Homo sapiens: one gene and its partner. The protein of the gene in region 2 interacts with the protein of the main gene of each other region in a biochemical or structural test. Each region holds a gene or a part of one and is shown on either strand. Other genes may lie near its edges.

The links. The genes of interacting proteins can lie anywhere in the genome.
Region 1: the proteins of CHEK2 (region 2) and AATF form a complex in vitro, tested with the Homo sapiens proteins (one study listed by BioGRID and IntAct).

What each region holds. Positions count from the first base shown.
Region 1 is NC_000017.11:36,986,941-36,993,976, forward strand, and holds part of AATF (protein AATF), read left to right. Parts: intron 1-1,578; coding exon 1,579-1,780; intron 1,781-2,306; coding exon 2,307-2,471; intron 2,472-3,833; coding exon 3,834-3,917; intron 3,918-7,036. UniProt on the Homo sapiens protein: Part of the small subunit (SSU) processome, first precursor of the small eukaryotic ribosomal subunit.
Region 2 is NC_000022.11:28,724,821-28,731,820, reverse strand, and holds part of CHEK2 (serine/threonine-protein kinase Chk2), read left to right. Parts: intron 1-1,272; coding exon of another isoform or gene 1,273-1,401; intron 1,402-6,453; coding exon 6,454-6,578; intron 6,579-6,696; coding exon 6,697-6,844; intron 6,845-6,897; coding exon of another isoform or gene 6,898-6,935; intron 6,936-7,000. UniProt on the Homo sapiens protein: Serine/threonine-protein kinase which is required for checkpoint-mediated cell cycle arrest, activation of DNA repair and apoptosis in response to the presence of DNA double-strand breaks.

The DNA.
Region 1 (7,036 bases), on a different chromosome or scaffold from region 2:
TAGACAAAGGCTTGCCTTCTCTTTAGATCTATTGGAATTAGAAGATAAAAGCACTTTGTTTTTTAGAGATGGGGTCTTACACTGTCATCCAGGCTGGAGTGCAGTGATGTGATCGCAGCTCACTGCAGCCTCAAACTCCTGGGCTTAAGCGGTCCTCCTGCTTCAGCCTCCCAAATAGCTGGGACTGCAGGCACTTGCCACCATGCCTGGCTATTTTTTTTTTTTTTTTTTGTAGAGACAGGGTCTTGCTGTGTTTCCCTATCTGGTCTCAAACTCCTGGGCTCGAGCCATCCTTCCACCTCAGCCTCCCAAAGTGCTGGAATTATAAGCATGGGCCACTTCACCTGGCCAAAAGCACATTTTTAAAATATTAATGCTTAATTAATGTTTATGAAACATTCTGTGCCCATACCATATATTGGAATCACTGGTCACAGCCATCTCCTTTGAATAAAAGCTGTTATTATGAAAGATGGAAAAATTTCAGAAAACAGCAAAATAATTATTTTTTCCCCCTGAAATTATTACATTTGATGAAGATTTTTCCCCCTTTTGTTTACACCTGCTGTATATACCTGCTTGCTTTTTTTCCCTCGAGCTTATCTTTTGTTTCACTTTTTATCTACTGAACTAGTTGGGAGGACAAAAAGGAAACTCACATTTATTGAGCACCTATTATATGTTGAGGTCAGTAATCCAGTGAGTGCAACTGGCAGATAGTTGGAGGTTGTATTACATTGCCATGGCAGTTGCATAGATGGCACTGCAGGTTAGTTAGTGCTAATTGTTGCCTACCGCTTTGAGTTTTCTTCACATTCAGCTTCTCTTGTATTTGGTTCAACTAATATTATTCATCTTTCCTTAACAGTTGGTTACAGAGAGACACATTTCCCTTATTGATTTGAGGATTAAGGTCGTAGAAATATGGTTATGTGTTTAATTTTTAAATACTGTCCTATAATACTGCAGGCCTGGTTCATACACATTTCTAATAATTCTTTTAAAACCTCATTTATTTTTATGGTTTACTTACCTTTTAAAAAATATTTTGAAACTAGTTCTTTTTATATTTGTTTTAAAAGTTACATGAGGCTGGGTGTGGTGGCTCATGCCCTGTAATCCCAGCACTTTGGGAGGCCGAGGCAGGTGGATCACTGGAGGCCAGGAGTTTGAAACCAGCTTGGCCAACATAGTGAAACACCATCTTTACTAAAAATATGAAAAAAATTAGTCGGGCATGGTTGCACACACCTGTAATCCCAGCTACCCATGAGGCTGAGGCATGAGAATTGCTTGAACCCAGAAGTGGAGGTTGCAGTGAGCCAAGATCGCGCCACTGCACTCCAGCCTGGGCAACAGAGCAAGACTGTCTCAAAAAAAAAAGTTACACGAGTTTTTGATTGATCTCATGAATATTCTTCTCAAAGAGCAAAAGCCATCCTTATATCTTTGGTGTTATTTTGAATGGAGACAGAACAGGTAAGGCCTAAATATTCTCAGTCCTTTATGTGAGCCTAGTTTTTAAAATCTAAGTAATGTTTGTTTACACTGGACATAATATTCTTACTGCTTTTCTAGTGAGGAGATTTCTAGTGAAGATGATGAGCTGGTAGAAGAGAAGAAGCAGCAACGAAGAAGGGTCCCTGCAAAGAGGAAGCTGGAGATGGAGGACTATCCCAGCTTCATGGCAAAGCGCTTTGCCGACTTTACAGTCTACAGGAACCGCACACTTCAGAAATGGCACGATAAGACCAAACTGGCTTCTGGAAAACTGGGGAAGGCAAGTGTGTGTATGCGCGCATGTATGTGTAAGATAGGTTGTGGCAACTTGAAGAAGTTTTAAGAAATTGGAACTACAGCTCATTTATATGGATGTTGTCACGATGTAATGGTAATCATTCATTTCTATAGCAAAATCTACTGAACTTCTGGCACTGGGGTTTATACGATTCAGACTTGGGATTTTAACTTTATTAGAAAGAATGTTTTATTCTTAAAATTGAGGCCTTGTAAGTGTTCAAGTGCTGAAAATCCAAATACTTTAAAGGAGTGGATTTCAAAGCAATAATTATTAAAGTATCAGAAGCTAATCTCCGTGTGTAGAAAAATGATATGACCTGCTTAAGACTAACTTTTTTTTTTTAAGAACAATTATAGCCACTCACAAACTCAGTCCTTTACAGAAAGTCCCTCCTGAAAAGATGATTTTCTATCTCTCTGCTGACACAGAAAGATAGAGAAACCAATGTAGCTTGCCTTCAGCACTGATTTTCTGCATTATCTGACACTGCTTAATGTTGTTGCAGGGTTTTGGTGCCTTTGAACGCTCAATCTTGACTCAGATCGACCATATTCTGATGGACAAAGAGAGATTACTTCGAAGGACACAGACCAAGCGCTCTGTCTATCGAGTTCTTGGCAAACCTGAGCCAGCAGCTCAGCCTGTCCCAGAGAGTTTGCCAGGGGAACCGGTAAGAACTCTGTAATGCAGAGTGATTATGGGGAATAGTTTCTATGAGGCTTATTAGCTGAAAAACTTGTAGCTATTACCTGTTTATATAAGAGGTTAGTGAGAGAAAGGAAAGCAACACTACTTTACTGGATTACTGAGAGAAACTTGAGTGTATGTGAGAGGAGAGAGTTTTTAAAAATGGGGCTTCTATTAACTCCTGTGTGTCATCTTCTCTTAATTTTGAGTTTGATGCAGGAGTCTGGTAGTAGAAGCATTCATAATCCAATTTTCAAAATTCAGTTTTAAAGCTACTTCTGTAGAAATGTCAGTATTGAAACAAGTGTGTACTTTAGGCTCAACGTTTGCCATTTAGGTACTTTAGAAAGGGTGCAGAAGTGGAATAGTCAAATTCTTTTGTTTAAAGGAAACATTTAAAATTTTTTAATTATGGAAGAAATATATACTTAATCCTTTTTTAGTTTATAGCAACTTAAAATGAAAAGCAAAATTCTCTACTCTGAAAATTTCACTCCTGAGGTGAAATTTTTTTATTTTTTTTGTCAATTGCCTGTTAACGTAACTCCTGAGGTGAAATTTTCAGTATTTAATAGTTGTAACAAGTTTACAGTTAATAATTAATAGTTGTAACAAGTTTTTGGGTCTTTTCTATTTGTGTAACTATATATGTGTGCAAATAACAAATATATATGTATAAATATGGTTGCCTTTTTTACTAAATGAGAGACATTTATGTAGTATAAATATGTAAAATATTACAACTGTATTTAAAGTCTTGCAACTTTTAAAATCTAATAAGTCCTAGATACTCTTTCCATTTCATTACCTAGAGAGCTACCTCATTTTTCCTAATGACCTCAAAGTATTCCATTGTATGGATATGCACTATCATTTATGCAAACAATGGATATTATGTTGTCTCCAGTTTCAGAAACACTGCTACAGGAAAGATTCCTGTACATGTATTATGTGTTCGTATAAATATATGGGTAGATTTCTTGAAGTGGAAGTGTTAAAGAAAATACACCAAATTCTGATAGATGTTGCCAAATTGCCTCCAAAAAGGCTGCATTAATTTCAGTCGTAGAGGTGAAAAATGGTATCTTCTAATTCTAATTTACACATATTTAATTTGAATGAGGGTAAACATATTTTCATATGATTATTTATGGGTTTTTTTGGTCAACTGCCTGTTAATGTTTTTGCCTGTTTTCATATTGGACTGTTTTGTTTTTTAATTTTAAGAACTTTTTATATCTTAAGGAAAACAGTGCTTTGACTGTTCTACATATTATTTATAGTAGCTACATTAGTTAGATAGCCTTGTTGGGATTCACTCTTTTCTTACTCATTGTTAACATAGGAGATCCTTCCTCAAGCCCCTGCTAATGCTCATCTGAAGGACTTGGATGAAGAAATCTTTGATGATGATGACTTTTACCACCAGGTGAGACTTTTACACTCTCTTGTTACAAATCATGTTTTAGCATTTTAAAGCAGCTTATAGAATTCTCTGAACAAAGAAGTTGCTTATTTTGGAAGGATAGAGTCAGACAGTGAGTTAGAACTCCCGCGTTCAAAATTGACTTACAGTGTCATTGTGGATTTGTTGCTTTTCTTCTATTTTATGTTTTCCTTTTGAAATGAAAACAGCTATAGCTACTTTGTTGTTGCTTGAGTGTAAATTAGCTGTAAAACAGTTTCAGGTTTTTTTCTCTGAGTCAAGTGGGTTCTTTCTGAGCCATTTTTGATGATGGAGGATTTGTTAAGTTATTTGGTTTCTTGTCTCATTACTATTAGAATGGGCCGTGGAGCTGGAGGGCTGGGATCCCAGAGTTCCTGAATTGCGCTACTGATCCTATTATCTGTTAAATCTTGTTCTTAATGTCTTTTTGTGCCTGTCGAAGTCAGTTAAGTATGTATTGAGAATGTCTGCAACTGTTGATTATAATAAGAGCATAGTGCTTTTGAAGACAGAGAGAATTGGTAGAAGTTGAAATATAGTCCAGTTCTCAATATGTTTTCAGACTCCCCCACTTCTTTCCCTGACATTACTCTCTGCTGGCATGCTGTTCTTTTTAATGATGCCAGAGACTGTTAAGATAGACTAAACATTTGGGCTGTTCTAGAGAACTGAAATAACTTCCTGTATTCCTGAGTCTCTTGATAAGTTATACTTTTTTTTTTTTTTTTGAGATGGAGTCTCGCTCTGTCACCCAGGCTGGAGTGCAGTGGCGCAATCTCGGCTCACTGCAAGCTCTGCCTTCTGGGTTCACGCCATTCTCCTGCCTCAGCCTCCCGAGTAGCTGGGACTACAGGCGCCCGCCACCAGGCCTGGCTAATTTTTTGTATTTTTAGTAGAGACGGGGTTTCACCGTGTTAGCCAGGAGGGTCTCAATTTCCTGACCTCGTGATCTCCCTGCCTCAGCCTCCCAAAGTGCTGGGATTACAGGCTTGAGCCACTGCACCCGGCCAGACAAATTATACTTCTTAATAGAGTGTGTGTTTGGCTGTACCCTTTCTAGCTTAGTGGAGAATAGAGGAAGCTGTTCAGCAGTGATATACCAGTTATTGTTGAGCCATTGTTTATCAAGATAATTTTTTTCTCTGTCAAATTTTTAATGTGCTAGCTTTAGCCAAGTAATTTGCGACTGCTTGTTGAGGGTTTAGCCATGACTGCTGTACTGTGTATATGGATATGAAGAAGAACTTCTTAGGAAAATTACATGTAAAGTCAATATAGAACAAGTGATTTTATATTGGGGATACCTCTGGTCTTGCCCTAAAAAGAGAAAGAGACTTTCTATTAATTTTTTTTATTCATTCTATAATGTTTGATAAAATTATTGCCATAAGTAAGTCTTAAAAGTAATGACTAGAGGGTATAGGAAAAAAAGATTGGTGTGGCTGCAGCTGTTCCCTGTCAGAGGTCCTGATTCTTTTTTCCTCTTCTCTTATTATATTCATTTGTCAGAAGAGTAAGGAACTCTATTTTGTTCTAGAGTGTCTAAGGAAGTACCTGATATGGGATATTAATGCTGTATAATTGTGTGAGATCACGGGAGACAATCAAAAATGTTCCAGTCCTCATTAATTGAAGTGTACATTGTTCGATGAAAAGTGCATCATAAATTAAATAGGCTTAATAAAATAAAGTGAAATTACTGGGGAGAAGTTGCCTCTGTTGGCAATCCTTAGTCTGAATTTTTTTTTTTTTTTTTTGCCTGGAGGTCTGTTTAAAAAGAAATAGCATTACTTGATTGGCCCTTCATCCCAATTAATAATTTTAACTTCGATAAATTCTGATTTCAGAGTTATGACTAGTCACATCTTAGCTTTTCCCCTTGCTGGTTAATTGGGGTGCTGGGGTTAATCTAAATTAAAACTTAAACTAATAGAGGTCAGCAAGGCAGCTAAAACACCTGAGTGAAACAAATGGGGCTGCCAGGCACAACTTTATCTTGGCTGTTTCCCAAGAGGGAAGTGGCAGCAAATTGGAGTTGTTTCAGCCTTCTGTAAAGGTGAATGATGGGTGACACTTGTTAATGTACAGCATCTCCGGAAGCATTCCAGATTGCTTTGCTGCTACACCAACTGCTGCCATCCATGCACAGTCAGTAGGAACTGGACCAGTTGCCAACATCTGGCAGCACAGCAAGGAATGGGTGCAAGTCTTGAAACCCTGCAGATTCTAAATATGGTGCTTAGAACTGTGCAGGTTTTAATCACTTACCACTCTTTGGCAGCGGGCTACGACAGCTTATCCTAGCCTCGTACATCACATTCCGACATCTGCTGAGCTGCAAGGCAGCTGCACATTCATTTTCTTTTCTTGCCTTTTCTCTTTGCTTCCCATTCCCCTTCTTCTTCCCACTCCCCTCACCCTTCAGTTTTCCTCCCCCTCCCAAATATGCTTCTTGGGAGAGATGATCTGTAAAGATTACTGCTTCATTGTGTGCAAGTAATTGTGGTGATGCCAGGCCCTTGACAGACACAAGGTAGCACCTGTTCTGCTGACCTGGTTAATTTCTTCTGTTGAGTGGGATTTGCCAGAGATTGGAGCTGAAGCCAATTCAGTGATAAGGCTAAAGAAAATGGCTGTATGTTTTCTGTCACTTCCCAATTAAATTGGCTTCATAAAGTGCTTTCCTTTATTTGTCAGAGTAGTAAGCCTGAGCTAAGTGTTGCATTCAGAAGTGGTTCAATATATTACAATGGGCCTGTGAGTTTTCATTTGTGTGGTTTTTTTTAACATGGTCATATGGAAGAGCTGGGTGGTGAATATAATACATTCCCCCTTTTTTAAAACCATACTTGAAGCCAGACTCTTTGGGTTCATGTTTTGTAAGGAAGAGATTATAGCCACATTGAATTTTAATGTTCCATTGTAAGGGTTTAAAGGCTTACTTGGTTAATTCAGGTGTCTTGAAGCTGTGTGAATGCCCTAACTACTGAGAATGATGTGTGGGCTCAGAACACTCCCCCTCTACACACACATACTCATTCACACTTTCATTCTTTGTTTCTTAATGGGCTTTAAGTTACCATATCTTTCAAAATATACTT
Region 2 (7,000 bases):
TGCAGGGGCTCTCAACTGTAATCCCAGCTCTTAGAGCAGCAGAGGTGGGAGGATAGCTTGAACCCAGGAGTTTGAGACCTGCTGGGCAATATAGCGAGACCCCATTCTCCACAAAAAGGAAAAACAAAAAAAGACAAGTAAACAAAGATCCTGATAGGATGACCAGCATAAAGTAGGTGCTGAATAAATAGAGACTGTTTATCATTATTATTATTATTATTATTTGAGACGGAGTCTCACTCTGTCACCCAGGCTGGAGTGCAGTGGTACGATCTTGGCTCACTGCAACCTCAATCTCCTGGGTTGAAGCCATTCTCCTGCCTCAGCCACCTGAGTAGCTGGGATTACAGGTGCCCACCACCGTGGCTAAGTTCTGTATTTTTTAGTAGGGACGGGTTGTCATCATATTGGCCAGGCTGGTTTCAAACTCCTGACCTCAGGTGATCTGCCCGCCTTGGCCTCCCAAAGTGGTGGGATTACAGGCGCGAGCCACCACGTCTGGCCGAGGCTGTTTATTATTATTATTTGTTAATTATTTATACCTATGTTTTCTTTTAAAATTTTACAGTTTTAATTCCTTTTTTTAAATTTTTGTTTGTTTGTTTGTTTGTTTATTTTGAGACAGGATCTCACTCTGTCATCCAGGCTGGAGTGCAGTGGCACAATCTCAGCTCACTTCAGCCTCTGCCTCCCAGGCTCAAGCAATTCTCCCACTTCAGCCTCCTGAGTAGCTGGGACCACAGATGTGCACCACCACTCCCAGCTAACTTTTTGTATTCTTGGTGGAGATGGGGTTTCATCATGTTGCAGTCTGGTCTCAAACTCCTGAGCTCAAGCAATACATCCATCTTGGCTTCCCAAAGTGTTAGGATTACAGGCATAAGCCACAGTGCCTGGCCTAGTTTTAGCTCTTATGTTTAATTAAGGTCCTTTATTCATTTTAAGTTTTATTTATTTATTTATTGAGACGGAGCCTTGCTCTGTCACCAGGCTGGATTGCAATGTCATGATCTCGGCTCACCGCAACCTCCTCCTCCCGGTTTCAAGCGATTCTCCTGCCTCAGCCTCCCAAGTAGCTGGGATTACATGCTTATGCCACCATGCCTGGCTAATTTTTGTATTTTTAGTAGAGATGGGGTTTCACCATGTTGGCCAGGCTGGTCTCGAACTCCTGCCCTCGGGTGATCCACCCGCCTCGGCCTCCCAAAGTGCTGGGATTACAGGCATGAGCCACCGTGGCTGGCCTAACTTTTTTATTTTTATTTTTTGTAGAGACAGAGTCTGGCCATGTTACCCAATCTGATCTTGAACTCCTGCTGTCATCTGATCCTCCTGCCTCAGCCTCCCAAAGTGCTGGGATAAGAGGTGTGAGGCACCATCCCCGGCCAGTTTGCAGTCTAAGTATGATGTTAGCTGTGGGTCTTTCCCTTTCCCTTTCTCTTTCCCTTTTCCTTTTCCTTTCCCCTTTCCCCTTTCTTTTTTCCTTTCCTTTCCTTTCCCTTCTGCTTTCCTTTCCCTTCCGCTTTCCTTTCCTTTCCCTTCCGCTTTCCTTTCCTCCCCTCCCCTCCTCTCCTCTCCTCTTTTCTTTCCTCTTCTCTCTCCTCTTCTCTCTTCCTCTCTCCTTTCTCCTCTGATATCTGAAGACTAAGCTGTGGATGTTTCATAAAAGTTCTTTCTGGGGTGGGTGCAGTGGCTCATGCCTGTAATCCAAGCACTTTGGGAGGCTGAGGTGGGCGGATCACAAGGTCAGGAGATCGAGACCATCCTGGCCAACATGGTGAAACCCCGTCTCTACTAAAAATACAAAAACAAAATTAGCCGGGCGTGGTGGCAGGAGCCTGTAGTTCCAGCTAGTTGGTGATAGAGTGAGACTCTGACTCAAAAGAAAAAAAAAATGCTTTCTGGCTGGTTGCTCTGACTCTTTCACCCTATAATCTCAGTGCTTTGGGAGCCTATGGCAGGAGAAGTGCTTAAGGCCACGAGTTGGAGACTGCAGCAAGCTATGATTGCAGGCCACAGAGCAAGACTTTGCCTCTAAATTAAAAATAAATAGATAATAAATAAAATAAAAGCTCTTTATTAGGTTGAAGGAGTTTACTCCTATTCCTAGTTTTCTGAGTATTTTTTGTTATAAAAGGGTGTTGCATTTTGCCAAAATTTTTTTCTGTGTCTATTTTCCTATATTCTATTGTTATCGTGTATTATATTAATTGGTTTTCAGATGTTAAACCAACCAAGCTTTCCTGGGTTAATTCTTTTTTTTTTTTTTTTTTTTTTTTTGAGATGGAGTCTCGCTGTCGCCCAGGCTGGAGTGCAGTGGCGTGATCTCGGCTCACTGCAGGGTCTGCCCCCTGGGGTTCACGCCATTCTCTTGCCTCAGCCTCCCGAGTAGCTGGGACTACAGGCGCCCGCCACCTCGCCCGGCTAATTTTTTGTATTTTTAGTAGAGACGGGGTTTCACCGTGTTAGCCAGGATGGTCTCCATCTCCTGACCTCGTGATCGCCCGCCTCGGCCTCCCAAAGTGCTGGGAATACAGATGTGAGCCACCGCGCCTGGCGTCCTGGGTTAATTCTTGTTTGGTCATTTGTAATCTTTTTTATGTGTTGCTGGATTTAGTTTGCTACTGTTTTGTTGAGGATTTTTATATCTATATTCACAAGGGATATTGGTTTGTGGTTTTACTGTGATGTCTCTGTCTGGTTTTGGTATGCTGGCCTCATAGATGAGTTGACAGTGTTCCGTTCCGAATTTCTTCGAAAAGTTTGAGAATAATTGGTATTAGTTCTTTACATATTTGATAGAATTTAAAATGAAGCCAGCCGTGTGTTTCTTTTTTCTTTTTTTTGAGACAGGGTCTCACTCTTACCCACGCTGGAGTGTTACCCACTATCACGTTTCACTGCAGGCTTGACCTCCCAGGCTCAACTCCTACCTCAGCCTCCTGAGTAGCTGGGACCTCAGGCATGTGCCACCATGTGTGGCTAATTTTTTTATTTTGATAGAGATGGGGTGTCCCTATGTTGCTCAAGCTAAAGTGAGGCAATCTGGGACTGCACTTTTCTTTGTAGGGATATTTTGATTACTCATTCAGTCTTTTGTTTTGTTTTGTTTTTTTGGAGACAGAGTCTCTCTCTCTGTCACCCAGGCTGGAGTGCAGTGGCACAATATTGGCTCACTGCAGCCTCTGCCTCACAGGTTCAAACGATTCTTGTGCCTCAGCCTCCAGAGTAGCTGGGACTACAGGGGCGCGCCACCACACCTGGCTAAATTTTTTTTTGTTTTGTTTTTAGTAGAGACGGGATTTTGCCATGTTGCACAGGCTGGTCTCAATCTCCTGAAGTCAAGCAATCCGCCTGCCTTGGCCTCCCAATGTGCTAGGATTATCATTCAGTCTTTTCACTTCTTATGGGTATATTCAGATTTTCTGTTTCTTCTTGTGTTAGTTTTGGTAGTTTGTATCTTTCTAGGAGTTTGTCCATTTCACCTATGTCATCTAATACTGTCACACAATTGTTCAATTATTCTTTTTAAATCATTTTTATTTCTGTCAGATCAGTAGTAATTATCTCTCTCATTCTAATTTTAGTAATTTGAGTCTTGTCTCTTTTTTTCTTGTTCAGTCTGTCTAAGGTTTGCCAACTTGTTGATCTTTTTAACTAACTAAATTTGGATTTGTTAATTTTCTTTTTCTTTCTAGAGATAGGGTCTCACTCTCACTCTGGAGTGAGTGGTGCAACCACAGCTTAGTGCAGCCTCGACCTTCAGGCTCAAGTGATCCTCCTTCCTTGGCCTCCCAAAGTACTGGGATTACAGGTGTGAGCCATCGTGCCCAGCCCATATGTAATTTTGATAGATCTTGCTAAATTGTCCTCCCTAGACAATTATAGACAATGTGTGTATAAATTATATTCCCAATGGCAATGTATGAGAGTACCCGCTTTTTCATACCTCTTGCCAGCACAGGGTGATATGAAACTTTTGGATTTTTGCCAATCTAATAGGTAAAACATGAAATCTTAATGTGTTTTTGATTTCTGAATTTTCTTATATTGGGTTAGCTTGGCCACCTTTCATATGTTTGAGCCAGCTGTATTTCTGTTTCTTGTAAATTATCTTTTCATATCCTTTACCTATTTTTCTACTGGACTGTTTAGCGTTTTCACTGATTTATAGGAACCTAACATTTATTAGGGAAATTATTCCTTTTCCTGATAGGAGTTGCTAGTATTTTCCCTAGTCTGCCTTGCAATGAACATTTAATTACCTGCCATGTGCAATATCCCAAGTGCTGGAGTTGTACTGTTAAACAAGAGGTCTCCAGCTGCCCTCCTGGAGGTTATGTTCTAATGCAGGGAGGTGGGGAGAAAATATACAAATAAGCAAGGTAATTTCCAGCCGTGGCCCATACCCAAAAAGATATAAAACAGGATAACATTATGATAACAGGTGAGTAATGTTTATATAACAAGCTGAGCGGGAGGCCGGGTGTGGTGGCGCATGCCTGTTATCCCAGCACTTTGGGAGGCCGAGGCGGGCGGATCACAAGTTCAGGAGATCGAGACCATCCTGTCTAACATGGCGAAACCCCGTCTCTACTAAAATTACAAAAAATTAGCTGGGCATGGTGGCACGTGCCTGTAGTCCCAGCCACTCGGGAGGCTGAGGCAGGAGAATCGCTTGAACCTGGGAGGTGGAGGTTGCAGTGAGCCGAGATCGCGCCACCGCACTCCAGCCTGGGCGACAGAGCGAGACTCCATCTCAAAGAAAGAAAGCTGAGTGGGAGATGATAGTAGAGTCCTAAAGGCAGATAGTGTTGTGTAGATAGTATCTGTTATACAAAAGGCAAGGTGGAATGAGCCATTTGTGTAGTTGGGGAAGAAGTGCTAAGACCACAAGGCAGATTGAACCCAGCATTCTTGGGGGCAGTGAAAGGAGGCCAGTGGTGCTGGGTGTCATGAGCAAGGGGAGAGGGGTATGAGGTGGGGCTGGAATGGTGGCAGACGCCAGACCCTGAGCATCTAGTAGGCCATGAGGAAGAGTGCAGATTTTATGCTAAGTGTCATGGAAAACCTCAGGAAGGTAATAAGCAGGAAATTACTGTATTGCAAGTAATTTTCCAAGTCATTAAAAATTACTCGAGAACTTTTAATGACTATTTGTTATTTCACGGTTTTATATATATATGTATGTGTATGTGTGTGTTTGTGTATATAAATACATATATTAATAGATTATAATATATATTATATATTATTATATATTTAGATATAATTACTATATTATAAATATATAATATATGTTATATTGTGTATAAATATATAATTATATTTAAGACAACTTATAAAATAAATTTATATAACATGTATAATAAATACAAATTATATATATTATATATAATAAATATAAAATAAATATATAATATATATTAAATATTTGTTTATTTATTTTTTTGAGACAGGGTCTTGCTCTGTTGCCCAGGTTGGAGTACAGTGGCAGGATCACAGCCCATTGTAGCATCAGCTTATCTTGCTCAAGTGATCCTCCTCCTTCAGCCTCCTGAGTAGCTGGACTACAGGCATGCACCACCACATCTGGTTAATTGTTTTTTGTTTTTTTTCAGACAGAGTCTTGCTTTGTCGTCCAGGCTGGAGTGCAGTGGCGCAATCTTGGCTCACTGCATCCTCCACCTCCCAGGTTCAAGCAATTCTCTGCCTCAGCTTCCCGAGTAACTGGGATTACAGGCACCCGCCACCACGCCCAGCTAATTTTTGTATTTTTTAGTAGAGACAGGGTTTCACCATCTTGGCCAGGCTGGTCTTGAACTCCTGACCTCGTGATCCATTCGTCTCAGCCTCCCAAAGTGCTGGGATTACAGGCATGAGCCACCACACCTGGCCATTTTTTTTTTTTTGAAACTGGGTCTCACTCTGTCGCCCAGGCTAGTGTGCAGTGGCGCAGTCTCAGCTCACTGCAGCCTCGACCTCCTGGGCTCAAGCGATCCTCCCACCTCAGCCTCCTGAGTAGCTGAGACCACAGGGACCCACCACCACACCCTGCTGATTTTTTATTTTTTGTAGAGATAGGGTTTCACCATGTTGCCCAGACTAATTTTTAAATTCTTGGTAGAGATGGGTGCCCCCTATGTTGCCCAGGCTGGTCATGAGCTCCTGGGGTCAAGTGATCCTCCTGCCTTAGCCTTCCAAAGGGCTGAGATTACAGGTGTGAGCCACTGTGCCTGGCCATGTGGTTATAGATAAACTGCCATTTGTTAAACTCATTGGTAATGTTGTTTTTTCTCTCCTAATTTTTAATCTTGTAAAATCTTGATAAGCAGATTGATAATTCTGATTGCCTTCTTAGGCTATTTTCCTACAATTAGCATTTATGAGCAATTTTTAAACGTTTGATACATGAAATTCAACAGCCCTCTGATGCATGCTTTTATATTACAGAATGTGTGAATGACAACTACTGGTTTGGGAGGGACAAAAGCTGTGAATATTGCTTTGATGAACCACTGCTGAAAAGAACAGATAAATACCGAACATACAGCAAGAAACACTTTCGGATTTTCAGGGTAGGTAATGAATACCCATGTATCTAGGAGAGCTGGTAATTTGGTCATTGTTTTTAGATATTTTCCCACTATAAATCTCTGCTATTCAAAGTCTGAAACAAAATGTTCTCTATTTTAGGAAGTGGGTCCTAAAAACTCTTACATTGCATACATAGAAGATCACAGTGGCAATGGAACCTTTGTAAATACAGAGCTTGTAGGGAAAGGAAAACGCCGTCCTTTGAATAACAATTCTGAAATTGCACTGTCACTAAGCAGAAATAAAGGTAATATTATTATCTTATGGTTACTGGAATTTTTTTTTTCCACTCTCTCATAGGAGGAAAATTTGTCCTGTCCTTACAGAATATGGTTTAAGTGAGTAAAGATGAGTAAGTTGCTGGGCGTGGTGGCTCACACCTGTAATCCCAGCACTTTGGGAG